Linked DNA regions of Homo sapiens: regions 2, 3 and 4 are each linked to region 1. The links come from fine-mapping of genetic effects on gene expression. A gene starts in region 1. Each other region holds a variant in brackets. All regions are shown on one strand. Distances are from middle to middle.

Evidence for each region. PIP is the estimated chance that this variant, and not a neighbour inherited with it, causes the effect.
Region 2: its variant is the best candidate, but not a certain one, in a credible set for the expression of GPR27 in substantia nigra (GTEx, PIP 0.81).
Region 3: its variant is the best candidate, but not a certain one, in a credible set for the expression of GPR27 in whole blood (TOPMed, PIP 0.85).
Region 4: its variant is the best candidate, but not a certain one, in a credible set for the expression of GPR27 in subcutaneous fat (FUSION, PIP 0.69).

The regions. Positions count from the first base shown.
Region 1 is chr3:71,749,548-71,757,417 of GRCh38, reverse strand. GPR27 (G protein-coupled receptor 27) reads right to left here and starts at 3,563. Exons shown (of 1, transcript NM_018971.3): 1 at 922-3,563. The coding sequence starts at 3,368. The coding sequence ends at 2,241. It also overlaps a transcript of EIF4E3 not described here.
Region 2 is chr3:72,069,869-72,077,738 of GRCh38, reverse strand. The region is part of intron 2 of LINC00877 (long intergenic non-protein coding RNA 877); the gene reads left to right. Among named protein-coding and RNA genes, the nearest start is that of LINC00877, 27 kb to the left of the region's middle. The variant A/C (reference allele first, on the strand shown) is at 3,865.
Region 3 is chr3:71,846,954-71,854,823 of GRCh38, reverse strand. No RefSeq gene overlaps it. Among named protein-coding and RNA genes, the nearest start is that of PROK2, 66 kb to the right of the region's middle. The variant A/G (reference allele first, on the strand shown) is at 4,002.
Region 4 is chr3:71,819,697-71,827,566 of GRCh38, reverse strand. It overlaps the pseudogene RN7SL271P. Among named protein-coding and RNA genes, the nearest start is that of PROK2, 38 kb to the right of the region's middle. The variant G/A (reference allele first, on the strand shown) is at 4,055.

The DNA of each region.
Region 1 (7,870 bases):
CCTCCCCAGTAGCTGTGACCACAGGTGCACATTACCACACCCAGCTAATTTTTTGATTTTTTGTAGAGACATGGTCTCGCTATGTTGCTTAGGCTGGCCTCAAACTCCTGGTCTCAAGCAATTCTCCTGCCTCGGCCTCCCAAAGTTCTGGGGTTACAGGCATGAGCCATCGTAGACTGGTTCGACCTCTATTTGGAACTGAGATCACTTGGGCAGGTGGAGGGTTAGATGAGGAGAGAGGTACTTCTGGGCTCCTCTATCTTGGGGTTGGCTGAGGTTTCCGATCAGTGGCCCTTGGATGATTGAGGCCAACCTGGATTCATGATGTGGGGAGAAATAGGGTAACTGTCTCATATTTTCCAAGTGTGAGACTGTCTTCACAGACTGATTAACTTCCACAACAAAATAAAATCATGCAGCCTATTTACCAGAGATCAATTAAATTGGCCACACTCTTTTTATAACTTATTCCCATTGGACTGAACATTTAATAGTTTATATTATACTCAGCTAAATTTCAATATAATCTACCACCCCCACTTTTACCTAGTACTTTTATCAAAATGATCGCTTGTACTTGAGTTTGATATGTTTACTTAAAAGCTTTTTTATGTCATTTAACGAATAGTCATTGAAATGTTGTCATCCAAATAAAAAAACAGTTTTAAAGCCGTATATATGTCTACTGCTTCTTCCCTTTAAAGAAAAGTTTCGCAGATTTTATCTTGCATTTTAAATTAAGCCTCCACTTTTCTTGGATATGCTGATGGTCAAACTATGAAACCTGTAACTGAAGAACACGTGCTAAAAGGATCATAGAGCATGTTATCCTTACATAACATACTTAGAGGCATGTAACATACTTCGACGCATGTATTATTACAGCCTCAAACACCACCACCACCACAACAAAACAACCACTCCAGAATGAAAATACTGGTATATTTGTATAATGCAAAGAGAAATACAGATATAAATCCTCAAAACGGAAGGTACATTAATAAAAATGTAGCATTATAAGCCAAAAATATTATATAGTACTTGCAGAATTTAGTCTTTCAGTTTAACATTATAATGTCTAACAAAGAAATATTATTTAAATTATAGTTCTCATTATTAATTTAAAACAACCATCAGTAGAACAGCACAGCTTAACCTAGCAAACATTTTAAGGAAATGCTTTGTTTCCTAGAAGGAGGATATCATTATATTCCATTCATTTATACCATAAACAACAGAAGAACAATTTTCAAAGTGGAAATTAGTTTCATAAGACAGAATAAAACTGGGCTTCTCAAAGCACAAGCCATTTCCATAAAATTAATTTTTTATTGGCAAAAAATACTTAAAACAATTTTGATGTAGTACTCTGCTTCTCAGAGCCCTCCCAATCCTCGAACCACAATCTATACACACGAACACATGCAATACTGTATTTTTCTCCACATCATTACTAACCAAAACACTTTACTCTTTTAAAACTTACAACTTGACAGAAATGTTTCCATTCAAGATTGCTATAATACAGAGAGCAGTTGTCACTGACGTGGTTTTTAGCAGCAGAAAGTAAACCGGGAACCAAATCTTACTTGTTACTTACTGCTTTAAAAAAATGACTGCCTTGCTACTGATCTCCATCTCTGCTCTTTAAGTTCAATATCAACACTGAGACTTTCAAAGAACCAGCGCAGCACAAGGACCCTGCAGCCGGCAATTCAGAGGGCATTTCGGACAACTTCCCCCCACCCCCCACTTTCTCCTGCTTCCAACAGAAGATCCTCAAGAAATCTAACTTGTGAAGAAGTCCCCCTAGGTTCCTCTACTTCACTGCAAAATGTAATGCCACTTGAGGTTGTCAAAAATAGCTTCTGTAGAAAACTGGCCATGGTCTTTAGGAAACGTTGCATGAAGAAAATTAGTACAGCCTTTATAGAAAAAGAAAAAAAGGAACCACACATGGAATAAAAGACGTCAGTACCGCTACAAAAAGACTGCAGGGCCTATTGTCAGGAAGAAAGTCGAGTTAGGAGGACGAATGTGCGGAGCTGGAGTGGGCTGAGCATCCTACTCCTCACCCACCCCACCCCCAAAGGAGTCAGTACAATCCAAGTGTCTGTCCACTTCGAGTCATTTTGAAGGCAGCTTAGAAAATTAAACAGGGGCCAGAAGGAAAAGATACAACGTCACCGTCCGAGCCAAAGGGAAAGGCTGGGTTGGGGGTCTATGTGGCGGGGCCTCCCTCATAAACCAATGCCTTTCAGGTCGCAGGGATGGGTCGCCTGGGTGGTCCGGGGGCTCTGGCAGCAGGGGAACTGGGCCCTGAAGCAGTCCCTCAGCTCCCTGTTGAAGAGGAAGCACACGACGGGGTTGATGCCGGCCTGCGCGAAGGTCAGCCACACGGAGGCCGTCAGGTAGGCCTGGGGGACGGCGCCGGGCCGCACCAGGACCCGCAGGTAGCTGGCCACGACGTAGGGCCCCCAGAGGAGCAGGAAGAGCAGCGTGACGGCGTAGAACATCTTGCACAGCCTCTTCTCCGTCTTGAATTCTTCCAGCACGAGGAGGCGGCGCGCGCCGCGGCCCGGCCCTGCGGGCCGGATGCCCACAAGCGCGGGCGGCGTGGGCCCGCGGCCGAAGCCCGCCGTCCAGTTGGCGGCCGCCTGGCCGGTGGCGCCCGGGCCGTGGAAGGTCCAGTCGTGGCTGACGGCGGGCACCAGGCGCGCGGGCCGCATCTTGCGGCGGTCGTGGATGAAGAAGAGCAGGCGGAGGTAGACGAGGTGCGTGGCGCCCACCACCACGGCCAGCAGCAGCAGGAAGCCCAGCGCGCCGGGGGCGCCGTCGGGCCGCTGCTCCAGGGCGCACGGCGCGTCCTCGTCGTCGCCACCGCCGTCCAGCACTGGCGGGAAGGCCGCGGCCAGCGCCAGCGCCCAGGCGGCGCACACCAGCATGGCGGCGCACGGCCAGCCGGCCAGGCGCTCTGCATAGAAGCGGTGGTGCGCGATGGCCAGGTAGCGGGTGACGCCCACGCCCAGCAGCAGGAAGGCGGCGTGGAAGCAGAAGAGCGCGGCCAGGAAGGCGAGCAGCTTGCAGCCCAGCGCGCCCGGCGGCGCCCCCGCCGCGGCCGCCGCACGCCGCGCCGCCAGCATGACGGCCGGGAGGCAGGCGAGCGCGCGCAGCCCGTCGGCCAGGCACAGGTCGAGCAGCAGGTAGTACGGGGCGCGGTGCAGGCTGCGCTCCCGCACGATCAGCAGCGCGAACAGCACGTTGCCCGCTAGGCTCACGCACAGCAGCAGGCTGAGCGTGGCCAGCTTGAGGCCCAGGGCGGCCGCCTCGCCGCCGCCGCTGCCACCCGGCTCGCTCGCGTTCGCCATCGCGGCCTCACCAGGCCGTGCGCTCCGCCCCGGGGCCGTCCCCTGCCTCGCCGCTCCCGCAGGCCGCCCGGCCCGAGCTCCGCCGCTCCGCCGGCCCTGGGCGAGCTCCCCGTCCTGCGGGGCTCAGCCCGCTCCCGGCCGGCCCCTCCTGGGCTCCCCGAGCCGCCGCTGTGCCGCCGCCGCCATCTCAGGAATGGTGCGCGCAGGAGGAGGCGGCCACTCCCTGCGCCCTAGGCGCCGCGGGCTTCACTGCGGACAGGGCCTCGCCACCGTCCGCAGCCCCCCGCATCCTCCTCCGTCTCCTCCTACTCCTCCGCTGCTGCCGCCGCGCCTCTTGGCTCTGCCCCCCGCCGGGCCCGCCGCCGCCGCTGCCGCCGCTGCCGCCGCCGCCGCCGCCGCCGCGGAGCCCCCTCCCCTCCGCCGGAGCGCGCAGCGCGGCCGCCGCCGCCAGCCCCGCCGAGGCATCCCGCACCGCCTGGGCCCGGCTGGGCTGGGGGCGCCTCCGCAGCAGCCGCGGGGTCGGGAGGCGGCCGGGAGGGAGGCAGGGCCCAGGACGCAAGGTGGCGACAAGTCGCGTTTGGCCCCAGGTAACGGGGGTCCGGCGGCGGCGCCCGCGCTGGGGTCACGGTGGCCGTGCGCGGGGGAGGTTGCCTGGGCTGGCAGGGTCGGGAGGCCTCAGAGGGGACAGGAATATCTGGAATGAGCCTTCTGCCCGAAAGCTGGGAGTAATTTACGATAGTAATAGTCATCGTAATCCTAAAACCGCTGATACTCAGGTGCGCACTGATGTGGGTGGCAGTGTGCTGGGGAGCTTGGCAAGCATTATCTCCCTCAACAGTAATCACGAAGTTGTTGCCATCCTTAATCCCACTTTATACCTCAGGAAGCAGAGGCTTGGAGGTCAAGGGAGTTGAGAGCCGGGAAGTAGCGGAGCTGGGATTCAAATTTCGCTTGGTCTGATTTCCAGTGCTGGACTCACAGCGACTCCGCAGCATCCCCTGCTCGCTAACTCATCCGTGATCCCGGTGAAGGACCTATATCAGGGAAAAGAAATGCAGCATTTCATCTTTAAGTGACTTGGAAGGTGAACCCTATGCCACCTTCCTCCCAGGATATCTATTTTCTGGGTAAGCCTGAAAGGGCAGCCCCTGTTATGATTCTCAGACACACCGCATTTGTCTCGCAGGACCTTGCATGTGCTGGTACCTCTGCCTGGACCAGCCCCACAACAGGCTCCCTCTCCGTAGGGCCTCCTTCTAACCCGTCTGTTTTACTCTGTATCCCTGCCCTCTAGTCATTTCCTTCTTAGCACTTATAATTTGTCATTATATACTTTCATTTCTTTTTAAAAATCATGCTCTTCTAACTAGGCTCTAAGCTCTTTGAAGGCAAGGGATCATGCCTGGTTTTTGGTACCACTGCATCCCCAGTGCTTAGCATGGTAAAGCCAGAATTAAGCAACGCATTGTTTCTCACCCACACTCATTTGTTTTTTCTTCTGTGCAGAAAATTATTTGTTGCCTACTGATTACATGCAAGGCAGGCACCTTGATGGGCATTTTCAGGATAGTGCAAGATCATAGAGGGCCTTAATGATCAGGCTAAGAAGTCGAAACTTTAGTCTGCAGGCAGTCAGGAGCCCTTGAAATCTTTTGAGAAGGGGAGCGACATGACTAGGTGTGCTCCAGGAACATTATTCTGGCAGCAGTGTTGAGGAGGGATGACAGAGCAGAGCCGGTAAACCTAGTCCAGAGCCTCAAACTTCACTATGTGCAGAAATCACTGGGGACCCTGTTAAAATGAAGATTCTGATTTAGTAGTTCTGGAATGGGGCCGGAGGTTCTGCATTTCTAACAAGCTCCGGGGTGAGACTAATGCTGTTGGTCTGCTGACCTTACTTTGAATAGTAAGGCCCTTGGGGACAGTTTGGATATTTTTTTAAAAATCTAAGTGATTTTTCAAGAAAATCAACTATTGAGCACCTGACTTGGGACTCCTAAGTGGCCAGCAGCAAGTGGCTGACCAGGCACATCTGTAAATGTATGTTGATAGAAAATAGATTTTGGAGGGTGTATGGGTTAGGAATTGCAGTTTGATACTAGTAGCAAAAAACGTGTACATGAGTTTATTTTCCTCGTGAAAGAAGAAGTTTGGAGGTCAGTAGTTGCTGACATTGATTTATTGGCTCAAGGACTGAATCTCTGAAAATCTTTTAGCCCTTCCCTCATGATCACAGTAGGCTGCCGACGCCCCAGCCATCATTTCTTCATTCCAGGCAGAAAGAAGAAAAGGGAAAAGAGCAGCAATATTCCAGCCATCTAAGTAGGAAGAGCTTTCTAGAAGCCCTACATTATAAACAAACACTTAAACATATCATTGGCTATCAATTGAGAGTGAGCACTTGAGCAAGGGAGGGTAGGAAATGGTTTCTTATTTCTTTGTTTAAAGTTAGACCCATGGCTGTAGAGAATTCGATCCTGCCTTGCTGTGGCCCTTAGCGCTTGGGCTGCCTCTGCCCAGAGGAGGGAATGCCTTCTTAATAACCCACACAAATTCACCAACTCTGGTTGCTTTATGGTAATACTAATGGCAGCCACCTTTTACTGAGCACTTGCCGTATGCCAAGCATTGTGCTAAATTCTCGACATGTGTTATTTAATGTAATCATTGTAATGGCCAGATGTGGTATGTGCTGTTACTGTCTTCATTTTGCAGAGGAGGCAGAAGGGTTAATTTGTTCACGCTTTCACCACTTACACTTACTTTACACTTACTTTCAAGTAAGTGTAAGAGCTGGAAGTCTGACTTTATTTATTTTGAAACAGGGTCTCACTCTGTCACCTAGGCTGGAGTCAGTGGCATCATCATGGCTCACTGCAGCCTCAACCTCCCAGGCTCAGGCCGTCCTCCTATCTCAGCCTCCTGAGTAGCTGGGACCACAGGCTTATACCACCATGCCCCGCTAATTTTTAAAAAATTATTTGTAGAGGCCGGATGCGGTGGCTCACACCTGTAATCCCAGCACTTTGGGAGGCCGAGGCGGGTGGATCATGAGGTCAGGAGATCGAGACTATCCTGGCTAACACGGTGAAACCCCGTCTCTATTAAAATGCAAAAAATTAGCTGGGCATGGTGGCAGGCGCCTGTAGTCCCAGCTACTCAGGAGGCTGAGGCAGGAGAATGGCATGAACCCGGGAGGCGGAGCTTGCAGTGAGCCGAAATCGTGTCACTGCACTTCAGCCTGGGCAACAGAGCGAGACTCCGTCTCAAAAAAAAAAAAAAACCAATTATTTGTAGAGATGGGGTCTCCCTATGTTTCCCAGGCTGGTCTAGAACTCCTGGGCTCAAGTGATCCTCCCACCTCAGCCTCCCAAAGTGCTGGGATTACAGGCGTGAGCCACCACACCCAGCTGAGGAACTCTGTGTTTAGAGTCCATCCTCATGATCTCCACAAACACTGCCTCTTTGTTATAACTGTGAAGAAAGCTTTTGAGTTTATAAAAGCAGTAAACTAACATACACAAACTACTGATGCTCCCGGGCACAGAATTATAACCCCTTTCGAGAGGGAAGGATTTTTCAAAACCATCTAATCCTAACACTTGAATTTTACAAACAGAGAAGCTCATGAATAGCTGAGTGGGAGGGAGAACCCAGGTCCTCCCACTCCTAGGTCACTACCTTCCACTTTAAATCTTCATATTTTTTATTCTAATGAGCACATGGTGTTCGACAAGTCACTTAACCTCTTGGAATCTCAAATGTGTCCATTTATGAAATGGGACGTTGGACCAAATGATTTCTGAGGGTCCTGGGCTCTGAAGTTGAGTTTAGGTATAAGGAAATGGAAGTTAAGTGATTATGTCTCCCAAATGGGGAGAGATTTATTTTTCAGAAAAGGACACAAAAGAAGAGACATTATTAATTCCTTATAACTTAAAATTTTCTGTTTTCTGTTTCTATCTACGGTGCAAAATGCTGCTCTTGAGATTTGGTTTAGTCATTTTCCCAGGCTCAAATAGCAGAAGCAGCAGTAGAAAATACATAAATCATGGTTCTCTCACAGCATTTATATGCCTACTTCTTTCATTATCAACATTTGTTCAGTAGATTAATACTTAAGGAAAAACTGTTCACATTTCATTGGCCAGGATCAACGTATTTTCCTTTTACTGTTTCTAGGAAGCTGCAGGCAAGAATTTTAAATGCTTTCTTAGGCACCAAATTGCATGCCTTCATCTCAAAGCAAAACAGCTCTATGACATTTTTTTCCTATAAGAAAATTTCCATTATTCTTGTATAATCAAATTATTCCTTTTGGACATAGAAACAAAAGTATTTCCCACCCCCACTCCCCAAATCATTTATGTCACTTCTTTGATGTACGTATAGATGGTGTGAATGGTACTAGAAATCCTGACTGTTCAGAGGAACTGGTTGGCACCCTTTGGCAGATACAGTCAAGGTCATGGGTTCCCTAATCATGAGGTCCAGTCTGGCCA
Region 2 (7,870 bases), 320 kb before region 1:
ACTGCCAGCTTGACCTGAAAGGGACAGAGAGAACAAAATGAAAGAAGGTTGTCAGATCACCAAAATTCTACAGACAGGAAACAGGTGGGTGAAACTACAGCTGCAAACAAGTATTACCCTTTATGAAGAAGGAAAGATGACTGTGAGAGCAGACCTTATAGGCTCTGAAGGCAGAGCTGAGAGCCATGCCTTGAAACCTAATGGAGTTTTTCTGGTTGGATTTAGAAAACATTTGGGACCAGGGACTCTTTTTTTTCTTTCCTTCTTCTCTCGTTTTGAATGGGAGTGCTGTTACCCTGGTGGAGTGTGTTTCATTTTGTATTTTGGGAGCAGATAATTTCTTTGCTAGCTTCATAGGTCCACAGATAGAGAGAAATTGTGCCACACACTGGACTATACCCAGAGCTTCACCCATGCCTATATTCGATGATTTATGTGATGAGAAATGAAACTTTTGACCTGATAAGACTTAGATGAGATTTTGGATTCAGGTTGATTGCTGTAATGGGTTGGGAGTTTTTAAGAATGGGTCAATGCAGTTGAGATAGACATAAAACTTTGGGAACAGACAGCATATTTTTGCAGGTTGAACAATGGCCTCCAGGCCAGCACGGTGGCTCACACCTGTAATCCCAACACTTTGGTAGGCTGAGGAAAGAGGATCACTCGAGCCCAGGAGTTCAAGACCAGCCTGGGCAATATAGTGAGATACTGTCTCTTTTTAAATTAAATAATAATAATAATAATGGCCCTCCAAAGATGTCCATATCCTAATCCCTGGAACCTGTGAATATATTACTTTCCACTGTAAAAGGAATTCTGCAGATGTGATTATGTTGAGGGTCTTGAGATGGGGAGGTTATCCTGGTGGGCCCAATGTAATCAGAAGAGTCCTTGTGAGAGATCAGCAGAAGCATCAGAATCAGAGAGAGAAGATGTAAGGATGGAAGCTGAGGTCAGAGAAAAGAGAAGATGCCACACTTCTGGCCTTGAAGCTGGAAGAAGGGACCACAAGCCAAGGAATGCCGGCAGTCTCTAGAAGTTGGACAAAGCAAGGAAGCAGATTTTCCCCTAGAGCCTCCAAAAGGAAGATAGGCTGACACCTTGATTTTAGCCCAGTATTTTTATTCCAGAACTATAGGATAATAAATTCACATTGTTTTAAGCCCACTGTGTTTGTCGTCTGCTGTGGGAAGTCAGGGACCCCAAATGGAGGGACCGGCTGAAGCTGTGGCAGAAGAACATAAATTGTGAAGATTTCACAGACATTTATCACTTCCCCAATCAATACTCTTATAATTTCCTATGCCTGTCTTTACTTTAATCTCTTAATCCCATCATCTTCGTAAACTGAAGATATATGTCACCTCAGGACCCTGTGATAATTGCATTAACTGCACAAATTGTTTGTAAAACATGTGTGTTTGAACAATATGAAATCTGGGCATCCTAAAAAAGAACAGGATAACAGTGATTTTCAGGGAACAAGGGAGATAACCATAAGATCTGACTGCCTGTGGGGCCAGGCAGAACAGAGTCATATTTCTCTTCTTGCAGAAGGCGAATAGGAGAAATATCGCGGAATTCTTTTCCCAGCAAGGAATAAACCTGGGAAAGGAATGTATTCCCAGGGGAAGGTCTGTAAAATGGCCGCTCTGGGAGTGTCTGTCTTATGCGGTTGAAGATAAGGGATGAAATACGCCCTGGTCTCCTGCAGTGCCCTCAGGCTTGCTAGGATTAGGAAATTCCAGCCTGGCAAATTCTAGTCAGACAAGTTGTCTGCTCTCTAACCTTGTTTCCTGTTAACATGTTTATCAATGACAATGTGTGCCCAGCAGGACATGGAACCTCATCAGTAATTCTGATTTCGCCCTGGCCTTGTGATCTTGCTCTGCCACTTGTCTTGTGATCTTTTATTGCCCTAGGAAGCATGTGATCTCTGTGACCCACTCCCTATTCGTACCCCCTCCCCTTTTGAAGTCCTTAATAAAAACTTGCAGTTTTGTGGCTCAAGGGGCATCATGGAACCTGCCGACATGTGATGTCACCCCCGGAGGCCCAGCTATAAAATTTCTCTCTTTTGTACTCTTTCTCTTTATTTCGCAGACTGGCCAACACTTAGGGGAAATAGAAAAGAACCTACATTGAAATATTGGGGCTGGTTCTTCCGATAGTGGTCATTTGTTATAGCAGCAAAAGAGACTAATACAGATTTTGCCATCCACTGATCTAAACATAAACTATGTGAGGGACTTTCATGCATTACCTTCTCCAGTCCTCACAACACCACTTTGAGGCAGGTATCAACAATATTCCCACTTGCAAGAGAGAAAATGCTGCTTGCAGAGATTGATTCAACAGTGTAGTTTATTGAACTTCAAAGCCCATGTTTCTGTCATATTGCTTGACTCAGGCAGACTTCCATTTTCCTTATTTCAGAGTGCCTCCACAACCCCCCTTAATGTTTACCAGTCCTGGGTCCCAATCTCTTGGAACTTTTTCCTCTGTTCCTATGCATGTGTTTTTCATTCACTCAGCCTACAGTTTCTGAGACCTACCAAGTACCAAGCCTTGGCTTAGGTTCCAAGATAGGTATATAAAAAAGATGCTTATTCCAGGCTGGATGGGGTGGCTCACACCTGTAATCCTAGCACTTTCAGAGGCTAAGGCAAGTAGATCACTTGAGCTCAAAAGTTCAAGACCAGCCTGGGCAACATGGCAAAATCTCATCTCTACACAAAATATAAAAACTAGCCAGGCATGGTGGTGCGTATCTGTAGTCCCAGCTACTCAGGAGGCTGAATTGGGAAGGATTGCCTGAGCCAGGGAGGTTGAGGTTGCAGTGAGCAGTGATCATGCCACTGCACTCCAATGTGGGTGACAGAGCAAGACCCTGTCTCATATATATATATATATATCCTCTCTCTCTCTCTCTCTCTATATATATATATATATATCCTCTCTCTCTATATATATATATCCTATATATATATATCCTATATATATATATATCCTATATATATATATCCTATATATATATATCCTATATATATATATCCTATATATATATATCCTATATATATATCCTATATATATATATCCTATATATATATATCCTATATATATATATCCTATATATATATCCTATATATATATCCTATATATATATCCTATATATATATCCTATATATATATCCTATATATATATCCTATATATATATATCCTATATATATATCCTAAATATATATATCCTATATATATATATATCCTATATATATATATCCTATATATATATATCCTAAATATATATATATCCTATATATATATATATCCTAAATATATATATATCCTATATATATATATATATCCTCTCTCTCTATATATATATATATATATATCCTATATATATATATAGCCTATCCTAGAAGAATCAACATCCCTCTCTCTGGTATTTGGGGATGGGACCTTTGGGAGATAATTAGATTTAGATGAGGTCATGAGCATAGAACCCTCATCACAAGATTCATGGCGTTACAAGGGGAGGAAGGGTGAGCTCTCTCTCTCTCTCTCTCTCTCTCTCTCTCTCTCTCTGCTGTCTGAAGACACAGCAAGAAGGTGTCTGTCTGCAAGCCAGAAAGAGAGCCCTCATCAGAAAAATGAATCAGTAGGCACCTTGATCCTGAATCTCCCAGCCTCCAGAAATGTGAGAAAGAATTGTCTGTTGTTTAAGCTATTTACTCTATGGTATTTTGTTATTGCAGCCTGCGAAGATGCAGACAATCTACAAAGCAAAAACAAAACCCTAAAAACAGCACTTGGGCTAGTAGCTGAAAGAGGCTTACACATTTGTAATAAGTGGGCTA[A/C]GCAGGAAGCAGGACAGCATGGATTGGTAGGCTGACTCTTAGATGGCCTCAAGGATCCTCACCTCCTGGTATGTCTGCCCCTGTGATCCCACTGTGTGATGGTGGGTTGGCCAAGCAACTTGCTTTTAACCAATAGAATATAGCAAAGGTGATAACGTGTCACTTCCATGATTATGTTACATAAAATTGCAATGTCCGTATTGCTAACAGTCTCTCTCCTTTGCTAGACTTGTTGAAGCAAGTTGCCATGTTGTGAGCTATCCTACAGTGAGGCTCAACTGGCAAGGAACTGAGGGTGACCTCCAGCTGACAGCAAGTAGGGACCTGAGGCTCTGTCTTACAACCTAAAAACAACTGGATTCTGCCAACAGCCATGTGAACTGGAAAGTAGCTCAGTTGAGCATTCAAATGAGACCTCAGTCCTGGCCAAAACCTTGGTTGTAGTTATTCAGAGGACCTCCTAAGTTGTGCCCAGATTCCTTACCTACAGATACAGTGAGAAAACAAATGTATGCTGTTTTAAGCTGCTAAGTTGTGATAATTTGTTATACAGCAATAAATAACTAATGCAAGTTGAGAGCATGGGTTTAGACTCATTGAACAAACATTGTGGGTTCAAATTTTGCCTTGACTGCTTACTCTTGTAATCTTGGGCATGCCACTCAGAGGCTTAGTTTTCTTATGTGCGAAATAAGACAATACCAGAGCCTACCACATAACAAGTATTCAATTATTGCTAGCTGTTATTATTTTTTAAGTGCTAAGGAATCACAGAAGAGGGAAATTTAATTTTCTCTGAAATCAGAGCAAAATAATTAAAACTAACACTTGTATTGGGCTCTCAGATTTACAAAGGCTCACATAGGAATTACTGATTTTAATCCTTACTGTGGTGTTTCCTGACTATGGGCAATTTTGTTTCCCAGGAAATATTTGGAGATGTTTTTGGTTGTCACAACCGGTAGAAGGTGCTACTGGCATCTAGTAGCTGGAGAATAGAGATGCTGATAAACATCTTGTAATGCACAGGGTAGTCTCCCTACACACATACACACACACACACACACACACACACACACACACACACACACACAGAATTATCTAACCAGAATGTTGATAGTGCTGAGGTTGAGAAACTGTGCCTTAGTAATCTTGTGAGAGAGGGTGTGCTTATCATGCATGACTCCTAGATGAGAAAACTGAAGCTAAGAAAGGTTGAATTACAGAATGTTGAGGTTGGGGGTCAAGTAGGTGGTATGTGGCAGGGCTGTAGAAGGCTTTGCCGCCAGGCCCCAAATGCATTGCTTTTTCTTCACCCCAACTTGACCTACTAAGCCTGTCTGGAGGCCCACTGATTTCAGCCCAGAGACAATGAACAGAATGTATCAGCCTACAGGAGTAATGGTGAAGGCTTAAGGCATTGGGCCAGGTCGGGACAGAATTTGTTCAGGAGCAGATAGATTCAATCCTACTTGGTAGAAGGGTGAGATTAGAGTGGAGGGGCCTATTCCATCAGAATCCAGAGACATTCTTGCCTATGTAAAAACTCTGTATTCTTATATAGAGATATCTTGATATTCTTTTTCAACTCTTGAGATTTCGAGCTAACAAAGACATTCATTCAACCAACATGTTTGATCATTGTTTCTGCTTAGACATCATTAAGACCTTCCACGGAGCTGGCATTTTACAGTTCCAATTGTTCCCCAATAGTAACCCATATAAACCTCTCAGTAGACAGTTGTGTTCCCATTTGACAGGTGAGGAAACTGAGCCTTGGAGAGGAATGCAATTGTATATCAAAGGGCACAAAGTTTTCAAAGGGCAGAGCTGGGTTCTAAACCCGGGCTTTTAACATCAAGTCCACATTAACTTCCACGCTAGCACTGAGCTCCCTATAACGGAGTTTGGGATATTTGCAGGAAGGGAGTGTAAAGCATTTCCTATTTTCAAGGAATTTGCTATTTAAAGGAGGAAACAATTGTAGTAGGTGAGTAAAATTAAAAGGAGAGTGAAAACACATACTTAAAATGGTTTCAAACAACACACTCCTGGGAGCACAGGGGAAAAAACAAAAAAATAGTTCTCAGGGGTGGGGCTGGGGGAAAAGGAGCTGGAAAGTCTTCAGGGAAGAGGTGACACTTGAGCTGTGCCTTAAATTGCAGGCAGAACAAAAAGCCAATGCCCCAAATCAAACAATAGATTCACTTGTTAAAAGTGATTACTGCCTCCAGATGCTGAAAGAAAAAAATTTCTAATTCCACTGTAACCAGTCCTCAGCGACAGAGCCTTAGGATTTCACGCATGTTCTTATTATTGCTCCTTTTTCTCCTTGCATGATTCGACAGCCAGGCAGCCTGCGTTCTATGCGCTTCTGATCAGGGCTGAAGATCTGCTGCATTTGGCTTGTCTTGTGATTTATTTTGCGGTGTGATTATACTAAGTTTATGAGACAAGAATCTTATCACCACTATCAGCACTTTTGCTTTTCCATTTTCGTTCATTTTTACAAAATAATAAGAGCAATGAGCTCCTAAAATAGTCAAATAATCACACAAACCAACACTCTACTGGGCAGACAACAACAGCAATGTGAAAAATGGAACCCTTAGCCAACAGACCACACACTCGGATGCCATCGTTTGAAGCACTGATTCAACTGTTGAAAAACAGAAACCCAATTTCTGCATGTGAAGGGTGATTCGGGCCTCTCAAGGCAGAAAGCATAACTGTACAGGTGACATAATATATTCATTTATTAATTCACTTAATAAATATCTACTAAAGACCTTTTCATTTCCAGACATTGTTTCAGGAAATGGGATATAGCCATGAAATTGACATATAAGGTCCCCATCCTCATGGAACCTCCAGACTAGATGGGGAGATGGACAAGAAGTAAGGTAAATTCAGGCTGGGTGCGGTGGCTTACGCCTATAATCCCAGCACTTTGGGAGGCCGAGACGGGTGGATCACTTGAAGCCAGGAGTTCGAGACCTGCATGGCCAACATGGTAAAACCCCTTCCTCTACCAAAAATACAAAATATTAGCCAAATCTCAGCTACTTGGTAGGCTGAGGCATGAGAATTGCTTGAACCCAGGAGGCAGAGGTTGCAGTGAGCCAAGATCATGCCACTGCACTCCACCCTGAGTGGCAGAGTGAGACTTTGTCTCAATAATAATAATAATAATAAGGTAAATTAAAATTGTGATAAATACTACGTAGGGTCACCAGATCAAATACAGCTGCAGTCCCCAAAGTTTTTGGCACCAGGGAGCAGTTTGGTGGAAGACAATTTTTCCACAGACCAAGGGTGAGGGCCCAGGGGGATGGTTTTGGGATCATTCAAGTGCATTACATTTACTGTGCACTTTATTTCTATTATGATTATATTGTACATTCTACAACTCACCATAATGCAGAATCAGTGGGAGCCCTAAGCTTGTTTTCCTGCAACTAGACAGTCCCAACTGAGGTGATGGGAGACAGTGACAGATCATCAGGCGTTAGATTCTCATAAGGAGCCAGCAACCTAGATCCCTCACATACGCAGTTCTCAATAGGGTTCGTGCTTCTATGAGAATCTAATGCCACTGCTGATCTGACAGGAGGTGGAGCTCAGGCGGTAAAGCAAGCGATGGGGAGTGGCTGTAAACACAGATGGAGCTTTGCTCACTCACCCGCTGTTCACCTCCTGCTGTGAGGCCCAGTTCCTTACTGGGAGTTGGGAACCCCTGAAATACAGGATGTCCAGTTAAATCTGAATTTCAGATAAACATCAAAATTTTTTTAGTGTATGTACATCCCAAGTATTGCATCCTAGCTGCAATATTGTATTTTTACTAGCTAACTCAGGCAACCTGAGCACTAAGAAAATAAATGGTGTAACTGGAGAGTTATATCACACAGGGCTCCACCACAGAAAAAGAACCAGTAGAATATATTAAGAGATTTATTGCAGAGAATTGTCTTGAGCAGGTATAGGAGCTGGCTAGGCCAGTCTG
Region 3 (7,870 bases), 97 kb before region 1:
TGACAGGTGTTGGCTTGAGTGAATCTTGCCTTTTGTTCAGACTGAAACTGAAAGTTATGTGAAAAGTGACCATTGTCACCAAAGGATCAAGGAACTTGGGCTGTAAGGGGCCAAGGATGGATACAGAGAAGAATTTAGACACAGCTTGATCTAGCCCCAGAGTCTGCAGAATGGGGGATTCCAGGCCTGGTACCAGATAAGGAGAGACTGTTAGGCAAGGGGGTCTTGCCACCTCTCAAATCACATCCTGTATCCACCCTGCTCACCCCACAACCTGGATTCTCTTTAGCTGTCTTCTTCAGCAGCTGTGAACTTTCAAAAGCAGGAGTTTTGTCTTTCAGCTCTGTTTCCCAGCTCTCAACCCAATGCCCAGCAGCCCATGGGCCCTCCTGGGTGCTGCTAGCTGTCTAGTCATTCAGTGATGGGGTACTTGCTCCCAAGGCAACCCCCATTGCTCTCCTGGGGCTGAAGCGTGATGGAGAAGGCCACTGTTCATTTCCAGCTAGCTTTCTGCTCTGTGCAGCTTTGGCAGAAGTGCCGACTCTTCAAAGGATGGGTGCATTGACATTTCACAACTCTGCATGCTTTCTGATGATTCCTGATAATGCTATCTGCCAAATAGCAGATATTGCTCTCCACGACTAAAAAATGAGATTGCTCAAATGTCCCTCTAGACATCATAGACAGTTTTCATATTCATTCATTTATTCGCGTATTCATCATTCAGCAAATATTTACTGAACACATATTAAGGCACATGCTAGGTTCATGGCTACCGAGGAGGGCAGTAGGAAATGGATCAGTAAAACATGAATGCTCTCTAAAAGCTGAGTTGAAGACACAAAAGCTACTCTTTCTAAGATACCCACTGTGTGCCAGGCATGTGCTAAATAATCTCCATATATTGTCTCCTTTATTCTTCACTATCACTATTGGATATTAGATGAGGCAGCTGAAGATCTGAATGTGAAAGCTTCTTGCTCAAGACCATACAGCTAGTGAGAAACAGAATGGGGATTCCATTCCCAATCTCTGAGATACCAGTGCCTAGTTCTTTCCTCTGTGCTGCACTGCCTCCAAAATAAGGATCAGATTGGAGGTAAGCAGTGACCTTGGACAAAATGCCACCGAAGATCAATAGGGACCAATTCCAGTCATGGGATTGCCGACCACTGCTGGAAGGTGGAAGCCATCCTCGTGGATCCTTCTAACACCTATCCCCTACAATAGATGAAAAGTGAAAATTCAGTTGATTCTAAGGTACTCATGAACCGTAACATGAGATTATTGAATGTTTGGAATCTACTTTCCATTTCTATAAGATGGCACATGCCCAACAGACACAGCCTTCAGCATTTTTCCATTTTACCATGCCTGGCACCAAGCATCTGACCTGCTGCGTTCCATATGGAACAGGATTCTGAGAGCAGACCAGGTGGTACGGTGGTGGGCCTCCCTCTTTGGAATTGGATGTTAGCACTGTCTGTCATTCTAGGGACTGAGAAGTCAACCTGGGAATGATAAGAAGCTAGGGAAAACTTTTCTCCTCCGTATGGGAGACCTTGATCTCTCGGCGGGTGGCTTAGCTGTATCCTTGGCTTGTGGAGGTCTCCTGGGAAGCAGGTAAGTCCCCGAGGATAAGCTCAGGACAGTAGGCTCTGGAAGTGGCAATTCCTGGAGCAGATGTGAGTTATCCTTTCCAACTCCCAAGTCTTCAATAAACTCATTAGAAGAGAAAAAGTAGAAACGGCAAGCATAAATGTTTAATCATCTAGGTTTATATCCTTTCACTGACTAGCTGTGTGCTGCTTCTCAGCTCATTTAACTTCTCTGAGCCTGTGATTTCTTATTTGTAAAATGGGGACAACAATAGTACCTAACTCATAGTATTATTTTAATTACTTTTCCAGACACAGGCTGGCTGTAAACTTAAGAGAATTATCCTAGACATTAAAAGCTATATAATCGTACTTAAAAAATAAATCTTTCCCCAGAGAAGTTCCAATTAGATGTTGATGGGACAGAGTATTTTCATTCTTTTTCTTTTTCCTTTTACTGTTTTTTTTTTCCATTGAAGGAAGTAGAAAAGCATTAGAGCTTATTAATGGAATGATTATTACAAAGGTGCCATAAAGAAATGGGGTTAAGGCCGGGCGCGGTGGCTCACGCCTGTAATGCCAGCACTTTGGGAGGCCGAGGCGGGCGGATCACGAGGTCAGGAGATCGAGACCATCCCGGCTAAAACGGTGAAACCCCGTCTCTACTAAAAATACAAAAAATTAGCCGGGCGTAGTGGCGGGCGCCTGTAGTCCCAGCTACTTGGGAGGCTGAGGCAGGAGAATGGCGTGAACCCGGGAGGCGGAGCTTGCAGTGAGCCGAGATCCCGCCACTGCACTCCAGCCTGGGCGACAGAGCGAGACTCCGTCTCAAAAAAAAAAAAAAAAAAAAAAAAGAAATGGGGTTAAAATGAATGTATAATGATAACACCACTTTGGTTAAACTTATTTATTACTGAACATATTTAAAAAGAAAAATGGATAGTAATTTAATTCCATTTGTAACACTTTCATGAAATTTCCATTAAATGGTGAAGAGTGCATATTTTGAAACATGCTGTTCTATTTGTCTAGGAGAAGAAATTTCATTGCTTTGGAAGCGAGAGGCTGCTGAATAGAATTTCCTCTCATAAATAAGGCATTGTCCTAGAAATCTGGTCTTCTTTATCCCACTATGTTCAGTTGTTCAGCTACTCTGCTAATTGTTGGAATTGGCAGTTTTCAAAGAAATCAACATGAAGAGCTCTGCAAAGTAAAATTGGGCATTTGGTTATAAAATCTGGTATAAAGCCATTACAGTGCACTATTGGGAAAATCAGCGCAGCTTCCAACTTCATGAGCCATTAACAAAGCGTAGACTCTAAACACACAGACATATCTCTTGACAAAGCATAATGTTATAGGTGATTTTCTGGCTGATTTCAATTAAGTGCCTATATTTTTAAATTATTTTAAAAATCACAAATAATTTTTAAGTGATTTGAGGCACTAAATGCTAAGGTTGAAATCTCAGCTTACTAGCTCTGTGACCAAAGTACTTAAGCTTCTTGAAGCTTCAGTTCCTTTTCAACTCTATAAAATGTGAATAAGAATACTTACCTCATGGCTTGAAGTGAGGATTTAGTGAAGTAATATGTAAAGTACCTAGCACACTTCTCAAAAATCTTTGGTATTATTTTCTTAGTTGTCATTATTATTGTAGTTGCAAATGATAGAAACGCAACTCAAATTGGTTTCAAAAATAACAATGATAACATATATTGGGGGCTTACTGTGTGCCACTTGCTGGGATAAACACTTCATCCTAATTATTTTAGTTAACCAAAAGGAATTTTTAAAATTACATAAGTGAAAAACCTAGGTTTGGTCTGGCTCCAGGGAATGCCAGACCCAGATGCTCAAATGAAGTCCTCAGCAGTTTATCTCTTTTCACCTTTCCATTCTCTTCTCTATGCTGGCTTCAGGCTCAGTCAGTCAGGGTCTCTCCATTAGCTATCAGCAATTCCAGGCTTTCATATGAATTCTATAATTCATATGGAACCACAAAAGACCACGGGAAGAATTAGGCTCCTCTAACCCAACAGTTCCAGCAAAAGGACCACATGGCTTTTGATTGAATAGTGCCTTTCTCTGACTAATAACCATGACCGGGAGGATGAACCATTCTGATGAACCTGGCCTGGGTCACTTGCCCACGCATTGAGGATTAAGTATAGGGATTGTAGCACTCGGTTTTCAATTGTTCTACTACAGTTTCTGAAAAGCACACAGAACATCATGAATAAGAAAAGACAAAACTCATGGACAACATCAACATCTTTAGCAAAACTAAGAGATTTTAGAAAACCTCAAACCCCAAGGTAGCAGAACTGGCATGAAATCAACCATGGTGCAACAGGAAGGAAAGCAGAATGCTGAAATTTCCTACAAACTGCAAATCTCCCA[A/G]TGACCAAACACAGGAGAGGGTTGCACCTTGAGTGAGAACTGCTGTGAGCTAATTTGAGAACAAAGAGCAAAATGAGGAGCCTGGGAAAGGAAGTCCTTATACCAAATTATATTTCTATAAATGGAATGGCCTGCAAGTCATGTCACCTCAGTAGAAATGAACACCACAGTACCTGGATTTTCTTCAATAGAAGAAAATCCTTCTTAAAGGACCTGGCACTCCTTAGAGAAATGGCGAGTCTGAAGCAAAGAAGATACTTGGTGAGCCGGAGGCGGCTTGTTCTACCAGAGAGCAAGTAAATTTCCAGGATTAGTAGATTTGTGTCAAAATAACTTAGAAGGCAGTATGAAGGGGCTTCTTCTGGTTACAGATGGGTCAACTGAGCATCAAAAAGAATAACGATTAAGAAGAACAAGAAATAAAAGGCATTTGAATTGGAAAGGAAGAAGTAAAATTGTCCCTGTTTGCAGATGACATGAAGTTATATATAGAAAACCCTAAAGACTCCATTAGAAAATCCTTTAGAACTATTAATAATAAATAAATTCAGTAAAGTAGCAGGACACAAAACCAACATATCAAAATCAGTTGCATATCTATACACTAACAATGAGCTACCTGAAAAGGAAATTAGGAAAATAATCGTACTAACAATAGCACCAAAAAAGTAAAATACTGGAATAAACTTAACTAAGGGGGTGAAAGACTTGAATGCTGAAAACTACAAAACATTGATGAAAGAAGTTAAACAAGACACAAACAAATGGAAAGACATCCATGTTCATCATTTAGAAGACTTAATATAAAAGTCCCCCTTTATCCATGGGGGATACATTCCAAGGCCTCTGGTGGATGCCTCATACCACAGATAGTACTGAAACCTAAATATACTATGTTTTTTAATCTCATAACTGAGATGACTGCTAAGTGATTAATGGGTGGGTGGCATATATAAGATGGATATGCTGGACAAAGGGATGATTCATGTCTCAGGTAGGACAGAGCAACATAACATGAGATTTCATCACACTGCTCAGAATGGCACAAAATTGAAAACTAATGAATTATTTCTGTAATTTTTCATTGAATATTTTCAGAATGTGGTTGACTGTGGATAACTGAAACCATAGGAAGCAAACCTGCAGACAATTGTTGGGGGAACTACTGTATTGTTAAAATGTTCATACTTTCCAAAGTGATCTACAAATTCAATACAATATCAAAATCCTAATGACATATTTTACAAAAACAGAATTCTATAATTCATATGGAACCATAAAAGACCACAGGAAGGAATATTCAAAATCAATCTTGGGAAAGAAGACCAAAGCTGGAAGCATAATACTTCCCAATTTCAGAATATATTGCAAAGCTACAGTAATGAAAACAGTATAGTATATATGTCTATACTGGCATAAAGACAGACATATGGACCAATAGAGCAAATAGCCCAGAAATAAATCCGTGCATAATACATGGTCAACTGGTCTTCAATAAGGGTATCAAGATATACAATGGGGAAAGGACAGTCTCTAATAAATGATGGGAAACTGGCTATCCATCTGCTAAAGAATGAAATTGGATCCTTATACCATATACAATGGTTATTCATAATAGCCAAGATATGGAAAAAACTAAATGTTCATGAGAAAATTAATAGTGAAATGTGGTATATCCACACAGTGGAATATTATTCAAAGTTAAAAAAGAAGAAATTTCTACTATATGTGACAACATAGCTGAACTTTATGAGAATATTATGCTAAGTAAAGCAGTCACAGAAAGCAACATATTGCATGATTCCACATATTTGAAGTACCTAAAGCAGTCAAATTTATGGAATCACACAGTGGCTCATGCCTGTAATCCCAGCTATCCAGGAGTCTGAGCCAGGAAGATCGCTTGAGCCCAGAAGTTCAAGACCAGCCTGGGCAACACAATGAGACTCCCATCTCAAAAAACTAAAATTTAAAAAAGCGGAATGGTGGTTGACAGGAGCTGGAGCTCTGGGACAGAGGCAACAACAGGCATAAAGTTCCAGTCAAGCAAGATGAATAAGCTCTAGAGATCTACTGTGTAACATGGTGCCCCCAGTCAACAATAATGTATTGAACACTTACAAATTTGTGGGTTTTTTTACAAATTTTTAATTTGTAAATGAGAAATCTCATGTTGTTTTCTTACCACAATAAAATTTAATAAAATAATGATTATAGATAAAATGTATTTAATAAATGAAATGTGTGACTTCATAAAGATACTAAAAAAAGAGAAAGCCTGAAAAGACATTATACGAGATGGCCATTAAACCACTCCTTACTTTTTAGTTGGTCATTAAAGGAAAAAAATTAAACATTTTGCCTTTTCCAGTAGGAACTATATGACAGGATAGCCAACTAGCCCACCTGTTGAAGAGAATCTCTACTTTACAAAAGAACACCAGTTAATGAACGTAGAAGAAACGATAAAGGTTGAAAACCTGATCTTGCAAAACCTAATGAAATTATTGATTTAGGCAAGATTTATATATTAAGTGAGTGGGATACAGAACAAGACATAGGACCAAAGTAACATTATATAAATTCCTTTCTGATCATGTGTCAGTTATTTATTGCTGAGTAACAAATCATTCAAAGAATCTAGTGGCTAAAAACAATAATCATTTCTTATTCTTTATTACTCTGTGGGTCAGCTGGTTGGTTCTTCTGTCTGGGCCAAATTTATTGGTCTCTACGGACAGCTGGTGGCCCAGCTGGGGCTGATGGATCCCAGATGACCTCACTCAAATGTCTGGCAGTTAGCAGAGATGGCTGGATGGCTGAGGCCTCCCTTCACATGGTCTGTTGAGATGATCTAGGATGGCTTGACTCACATCTCTGGGAACTCATCTGGACTAGCTGGGGCCATGCTCCATGTGGTGTCTCATCCTCCAGTAGGCTGGCCTGAGCTCCTTCACGTGGTGGTCTCGAGGTTTCAATAGCAAAAGAGGGAAAGCCCTGGTACACAAGCATTTTCCGAGCCTCTGATTGCATGATGTTTATTAGTATCCTATTGGCTGAACAAAGTTGCATAGTGATGCCCAGATTCAAGAGATGGAGAAATGGACTCATTCTCTAGTTAGTATGTCTAGTAGAATTTTCTTCAATGAAAGAAATATTTCATATCTGCCCTGTCTAAGTGGTAGCCACTAGCCACATGGGGCTATTGAGCACTTGAAATGTGGCTAATACAACTGAGGAACTGAATTTTTCATTTTAATTTATTTAAGCTTAAATTTAAATGGGTACATGTGGCTGGTAGCTACCACACTGAGTAGTGTAGTTCTAGATACAGAATCCCTTATGGTATATTCTAGCCAAAAATGCTTGTCTTGAATCCATCAGTCCTTTAGATCTAACCTATCATTTGCAGGAGATGGAGGGGTACAGGAATCAGCTACATGGCACAGTAAGGAAGCAATCAGACAAATCTAGAAGGTGAGATATTCCACAGGAAAACCAGTCCAGTGTCCTCAACAAGCCAATGTCATCAAAAAGGAAATCAGGATAGACTGGGTAGAAATAAGGACTATATCAGCCAGATTTGATTCTTGAGAGGATTTCTGGAGAGGACAAGCCAGTTATAAAGGTCTTTTTAGCTTAATTGGTGAAATTTGAATATGGTTTAGCTATTCAATGACATAAAAATATACTGAGTGGGCCAGACACAGTGGCTCGGCTGAGGTGGACAGATCACTTGAGCCCAGGAATTCAAGACCAGCCTGGGCAACATAGTGATGCCCTGTCTCTACAAAAAATACAACAACAACAACAACAACAAAATTAGCCCAGTGTGACAGTAGTTGTAGTCCTAGTTACCCAAGACACTG
Region 4 (7,870 bases), 70 kb before region 1:
GAGGGAGAAGAGTACAAAAGAAGCTTCCACTGAATCAATGCTTTGTTTCTTTGGGAAAAAATTTCACATGAAACAAATATGACAAAATTTTGCTTTGAGTTGGGGTTTCACTATATTGCCCAGGCTGGAGTGCGGTGCCTATTCACAGATGCTATCCTGCTGCTGATCAGCATGAGAGTTTTTAACTGCTTGGTTTCTGAGCTGGGCCGGTTTACCCCTCCTTAGGTAACCTGCTGTTGCCTGCTTTCAAGAGGTCACCATACGGATGTCAAACTTAGTGTGGACACCCAATTGACATAACACACTACAGCCCAGAATTCCTGGGTTCAAGCAATCCTGCTTCAGCCTCTCGAGTAGCTAGGACTACAGGTATGTGCCACCACACCCAGCTAGCAAAATGTTCAGAGTTAATTAGGTCTAGGAGGGAGGTAGATTCTTGTATGTTAGAATTTTTTTGAAAAGAAAGAATATTAGAAAAAAAGTCAAACATTAAACACTTACAAAAAGATACAAATTGACAATCAACTGCTCAATTAATTAATTAATGAGGGACTGTTTGCCCCAACATCCTTTGGCTGCCACTAGAGAGGAGATGGCATTCTGTCTGCAAGCACAAAGACTAGGGGAAGAAAGGTAAAGATAGGAAAGTCCTCCAATCATTTTTGATACACTGCAAGGTAGAGTTGTGTTGTAGCAATGTAATGTAACGGAAAAAGGTATGTGAATTTCTACACTGCAGATTTTATGAATGCCAAGAGGTCTTAATTTTTTTTTCCTTCACCATCACACCTAAAGGAGCTCATTCAACAGAACCAGGATTCCATGCCAGACACTTCCTGGAAAACTGATAATCCACTGGCCTCAGTGGTCTGAGTATCTGAAAGCAGCAGGTTAGTGGGGTTTTACAAAGTTCTTTCTGAGCAGGAGACAATTTTTATGTTAAGGAAGGTAATTTAGGATTTATAGGTACTAATCTGTATGGTCAACATACATCCCTTTCTGAGAGCAACTGATTCGCTTATTTTATAATTTCTTTTTTAAAATTATTATACTTTAAGTACTGGGATACATGTGCAGAACACACAGGTTTGTTACATAGGTATACATGTGCCATGGTGGTTTGCTGCACCCATCAACCCGTCATCTAGGTTTTAAGCCCCTATTTTATGATAATTTCTATATAACCTGCTGGTCTGGACCTGAGACAGCTGGAGCTAACATTCTGTTCTCTGACAACACACATATGTTGCGGGAGGCTGAGAACAAGTACTGGGCACAGTCAGGATGGGAGAGAGGGTGGTCTTCCTGCTGCTGAAAGGTCTGAATACTGGGAGAATGTATTCCAGAGTTGAAGAAAGGCCAGCAGAGTGGTTGCCTTTGGGGTTAATTTTGCCCTCCCTCCTCCATTAACTAGACAGAGAAAGGGGAACTACATTTAGGATACTCATTTCTGTTGCACCCACCCATCCACCCACCTATCTAACAGGGCAAGGTAGGGAGAGGCCTACAGTAGAGAAAGAGAAAGACTCATGGCCTTTTGTCAGCCTGCAAAGATTGCTCAGGAGAGTGGAACTGAGTGCTTTGGGGCAGTTTCTCTTTACTTTTCTGCCCAGGGAAGAGACAGAGTAAAGGACTCCTACCACTCCTAGAAGTGAGCGGCCGCAGGAAATGTGCAATGGCATAGCCATGGCCATGCAGATAAGTTGGCAGCAGAAAAGCACAGAGTTGCTTTTTGGGTTGACCATGACAATAGCCCAGCTACAGGGACCTTGTATTCCTTGGTGTTACATGACCTGAGGCCTGGCCTCAGAAACAGGCCCAGGAAGCAAAGAATGCAGCAATGGCAGAGAGCACGAGTGCGAGGGAGGGGGACTGTCCATGTCAGCCAGAGCTCATGGAAGGGGAGACTCCGATTCCAGAGTCTGAAGGGAGACATGGCCTGGTTCTCCATTGACCCTTGTAGATTAGGCTCCTGCTGCTGGTCATGGAGAAACTCCCACTTCCTGTTCATGATTGAGTTGATGATATGATAGGATGGGAGCAGTGGACATTGACCTGTAACCGACTTTGACGTTTCCCTCACTGCTTGAATTCCTGCTTCACATACATCTGTGTTGCTCTCTGTTGTGCCTTAGTCACATCTGTCGCGTCTGAGAGAGCATGCAGGTACTGTCCCCCACACAGCACCCAAAGTAGTCTTTTTAAAATGTAAGTCAGAGCATGTCACCCCTGGCTCCAAACCTCCTATGGCATCTCATTTCATCTGGAGCAAAATGCAAAGTCTCCACAATGACCTTCAAGGTTCTGTGCACTATGGGACCCCACCACCACCCACAATGTCCCGCGACCCCAGCTTCCTCTACTGTCCCCTGCATCTCTGCTGGGTCACCCAGGGACACTCCTGCATGAAGTGTTCTTCCCCTGATATCTGGGCTTCTATGCTTTCTCCAAGTCTCAGCTTCACAGTTACCTTTTCTTCACTGACCACAACGACTGTCTATAAAATTGCAAACCCTCACCCCCAGCCCCCATGCCACACACACCTATCTCCTTCCCAGCTTGACTTTTTTTTCCCATCACCTATACTGCCACCTGACATTCGGCATGCTTCACTTGTTTAATATCTGTCTGTCCTCCCCCACTCTCCTAGATTGTAAGTCCCGTAATGTAGGAACGTCTGTCTGTTCTGGTCATTCCTGGTATGTCCAGGAAGTATAACCTGACATGTAGAAAATGTTCAATAAAGATTTATTGAGTCGATGGAGTAACAGAAAGATTTACAGCAACTCAGAAGATGGAACAAAATATTATTTTATCTCTTAAATCACCTCCTAATGGGCATTTGGGAGTTCTTCCTCTTCTGTGGGCTCCTTTTTCTTCCTACTCTCGCCATCTGCCCACCCACCTGTTTTTCTCCACCCCCTCCCTCCCTCCAGGGTTCCTGCTCTGTCTTGGGTGAAGGGATTCCATCTTCCAGGCCTCACCCAATTCTTCAGAGCAAAGCCTCCCCAAAGCAAACAGATTTTTATCTCACCAGCACTGACCACCTCTTGAGGTTTAACATAAATGTGTGGTTATGTGTTAGCCTCCTGTTTCCATACTCCATTGCATCAAAGACCACTTTCCAGAAAGAAATAATGGGGGAAAAGACACATTTGAAGAAGGAAGGAAGGTTTATCTGGCGACATCTTTATAGTACACAGAGAGGCAGCTGTACTAGATAGCAAAGTGGTTGACTGTCTTGGATCTCATAAGCAAAGTGTCACTAGAATGGGTACTTCTTTTTAGAGAGAGTCCCAATCTGTCGCCCAGGCTGGAGTGCAGTGGCATGATCTTGGCTCACCTCAAGCTCCACCTCCCAGGTTCTAGCAATTCTCCTGTTTCAGCCTCCTGAGTAGCTGAGACTACAGGTGTGCACCACCACACCCTGCTGATTTCTTTTTTCTTTTTCTTTTTTTTTTTTTTTAAGTAGAGACAGGCTTTCACTAGGCTGGCCAGGGTGGTCTTGAACTCTTGACCTCAAGTGATCCACCCACCTAGGCTTCCCAAAGTGCTGGGATTACAGGCATGAGCCACCGTGCCCAGCCTAGAATAGGTACCTTATAATGTGTTTAATAGCTTTAATAACATTGAGATCTAGCACATACGACATACCTACACATATTTATGTTTCTGAAACAGAATATTCATGAAGCAACAACTATCATATTTTGGAGTGTTGTACTCTGACATTTTCCATTCTATTCTATTTCACTTAAGAAATGTCAGTCTTGATATTTCAGCTCATTTCATAACCCGGTGGGTCATAGCCCTCAGCATACCCTCTGACCTAAATGCCCTTGAACTATAATATCATGTGCACTTTTGCAGCCTGTCAGGTAAATGTGAAATAATGAGTCATTGCACGTTGACCCTTTCCTGCTTCATGAACACAAGTGTGGTTTGAAGAAGCAATAAGATGTAAGTATGGATGTATTTTTCAGAACTTTAATTTCTTGGAGAGAAATGGTATACCACATATTATTAGATAATATTAGTAGAATAATTTAAAATG[G/A]CTATGGTACCAGGTAAAATATTAAATATATTAAATATTTATATATCCCTTCACCATATGGGCAGTTTCCAGAGCTCGCTCTTGCTTGTGACCGTGTTACTGGATGACTTTCACACTGAGTGAATTTACTGAGTGCACTCTATCTCTCTCCCCCGTACACACACTTATCCTCTCATGCACACACACACACTCACTCACATGCACATGCTTCGTCTACTCTGGCTTTCAGAAGTCAGGCGCTGCCTTGGAGTATTACCTGACACGACTCTTTGTAAACTAAATACCGATCACTGAAATAGTGAATTATCCACTGAAAAAGTGGTTTTAACTGCTGAAAAAAATGTTCCAGAGCTGAAGAGCATACAGCAAGTGTACAAATATTATTTGAGATTGTGAAAGCAGAGAAAAGCAGGTAGCTTTCCAAAGCTGCAGCTTGGCTAGAGTGGGGTTTTTATGGAGGGCCCTTCTGATCCTCAAACCATCACTTTATTTTAATCTGCTGGCTCCAACCATCCATGTATCAATGTGTGAAGGAAGTAGGACAGATGTGATTCTCACAATGCAAATGCGGAAACTGAGCCCCAGAGGTATTCAACTGGGTGAAATGTCCCTGTTTCCCATTTCTAATTGCAGGAAAGAATCTAGCCCCAGCGCTGTAGGCCTGATGACATTGATTACATCATTGTTTGTAGCGTGCCCAGGGACTGGAAAGAACATGGGGTCAATCAGGAGGGAAATGTTGAACAAATGTTATATACCCATAGTATGAAATACTATGCCACTATTTAAAATAATGGCTTAGATCTAAACTCAGAAAAGCAAGTTAGAGAAAAATATGTATAAATCAATTCAATTTTTTACTTAAAAAAGGAAAGATTATATTTAGGTAAAATTACTTGCAGGGCTTCATGGAAGATTAATGAAAGGTAGATATATACTAAATCATTAGTATTACCTACTTGAAGAGAAATAGGCTATAGGGATGGTCAAGGGAGATGGAAGAGTGAATAATCAGCTTCTTTGTTGTATAATTTCATTTGTTTCAAAAAGCAATGTTTTTGCAGTTTTAAAAATCTGACAAAGACAACGTAAAACAATAAAATAAGATTCTTTCTTCTAGTTCTATTTTAAGTGAAGTAACCTCCCAAGATTACCTTAATTGAAAGGGGCAGCATTAGTGCTTGTTTTTGACCCCAAAACCATGGCCTTTCCTTAGAGCTACAGCTGCCTTTCCTGTATCAAGTCTTCATAAAACTTTGCACCCTTGAAACTAGCATTGGGTGAACACACACGGAAAAGAACAGAATAATGTCACGTAAGAAAACACAGCCCAAATTATTATTGTTGTTAGCACAGTGTTTAATGCAAATTTAAGCATGTGAATCAGGTATCACAATAGCTGTTGAAGAAATGTAATGCTGACAGTATTTGGCAATAAAATAATAATCACTGTGTATATCTCTGATGAAATGAGATTTACTACATTTGAGCTCCTAATTGTCTGCCACACTACATTAGAGATGGATACTACTATTGTCTCCACTGCTCAGAAATATGAAATTCAAAGCAATATGCACGGTGTCTTGAAATAAGCTAGCTTAATGAACCAGCAAATTAGACCTTTCTATCTCTTTATTTACCAACCAGTTCCATGAATGTATCAGAGTTCATTACAAGAGGGCAAAATTTAAAGAAATGCTGCTAAATTCATTTATGATTAGAACTAATGACTTTGAAAAGACTTCTCATATTTTTAGAGAAAGCCATAATTTATTATTGAATTTATATGGCCTTGGGTAATAAACGTTCAATCTTTTCTCACTTACGTCTGTTATTTATAGTTTGGATTTTGTAAAACAGCCCCACACAAAAAAATTCCCATAAAGAAATCGACTTTCCCCCCGCTAAACTCGGGAAAGGCATTCAGAAAATACAATGGCAAAACTTTCTTCTTGATTTGTGTCAGTGGTTCTCAGTGGGGGTGAGGAGGATTTTGGCAATGTCTGGAGACATTTTTGGTTGTCACAGCTAGCAGGAGAGGGAAGGACAGTGCTATTTGTATCTGGTGGGTAGAGGCCAAGGATGCTGCTAAACATCCTGCAACGCACAGAACAGGCACCCACAACAAACAATTATTCAGCCAAAATGTCAATAGTGCTGAGACTGAGAAGCCCTGAACTGTGTGTATGTGTCTCATTTAAAGAATGCTCCATTTCATTCAATGTTTTCTAAAATGAGATCACTCTCCATCCTGTCACGTAGGCTTAGAGCGAGACCAAGTAAAGGAATGGATCTGGCTCAGATGATATTTTTCCCCTAATAGTTACAGGAATAAAGACTTCAGCATCTGCAATAAAGATGATAAAGTATGGTGATAATATAGATGACTTAAGTTTGTTCAATCATTTACATTATCTTCCAGGAGATACCTTTCCTATTTGAAAGCAAAAGCATCTGATTACCTAATAGCTTTCAGTATGTTAGCATATTGGTTGAACATATTTAAAAGAAATCTGTTCGAGACTCCAATTTAGATGAGAGGAGTCAGTAGCCAGCAGATCTATGGCCAGAGTCAAGAATGAAGGCAAACAATGGGAAGATCAAAAGGTCTGATTCAGGCTGGGCGTGGTGACACACACTTAATCCCAGCATTTTGGGAGGCCGAGGTAGGAGGATTGCTTGAGGTCAGGAGCTTCGGACTAGCCTGGGCAAAATACTAAGACCTTGTCTTTCCAAAAAAAAAAAAAAGTTTAAATTTTTATTTTGGATTGGGATAAATGTGCAGGTTTGTTACAAGGGTATATTGCTACAAGGGTATATATGCGTGATGCTGAGATTTGGGCTTCAATTGGTCCCATTACCCCGCATAGTACCCAGTAGGAAGTTTTTCAGCCCTTGTCCCCTCACTCCCTGCTCCCTCCCCCCTTTTGGAGTCTCCAGCGTCCACTGTTCCCATTTTTATGTCTATGCGTACTCAAGGATTAGCTCCCACTTATAAGTGAGAAGATGCAATATTCGGTTTTCTGTTTCTGCATTAATTCACTTAAGATAATGACCTCCAGCTGCATCCGTGTTGCTGCAAAGGATGTGATTTTGTACTTTTCTATGACTATGTAGTACTCCATTAGTGTATATGTACTACATTTTTAAAATTCAATCCACCATTGATGGACAGCTAGATTCATTCCATATATTTGCTATTGTGAATATCGCTGCAACAAACATACAAGTACAGGTGTCTCTGGTAGAACAATTTGTTTTCCTTTGGGTATATACCCAGTAATGGGATTGCTGGGTCGAATGGTAGTTCTCTTTTTAGTTCTTTGAGAAATCTCCAAACTACTTTTCACAGTGGCTGAACTAATTAGAATTTTCTTTAAAAATAGCCTGGCCTGGTAGCATGTGCCTATAGCCCCAGCTCTTCATGAGGCCCAGCTCAAGCCTAAGAGTTCAAGCTTACAGTGAGCTATGATCTTACCACTGCACTCCAGCCTGGGTGACAGAGCGAGACCCTGTCTCTTAAAAAAAAAAAAATCTGATTCACTTTAGCTCAGAATTGCTTGGAACATTATTTACAATCTGTTTCAAGGTAGGAATTGTACACTTTTGATAGGAATCAGTTTAATTTGAATATGGTAGAATTTCTCTTTTGGCATTCTAGATGTAGGTTAGCTTTTTCTCTAATCTGTCTATCATATGCATGCATGGGGAAACTGGTTAATTTGATATAATTTAACCTGACACTTGTAGTTCCCCTGTGATAACAATGATCAAACTTTGTATATAGGTCTTATTTATTTAAATAAAATCTAATTA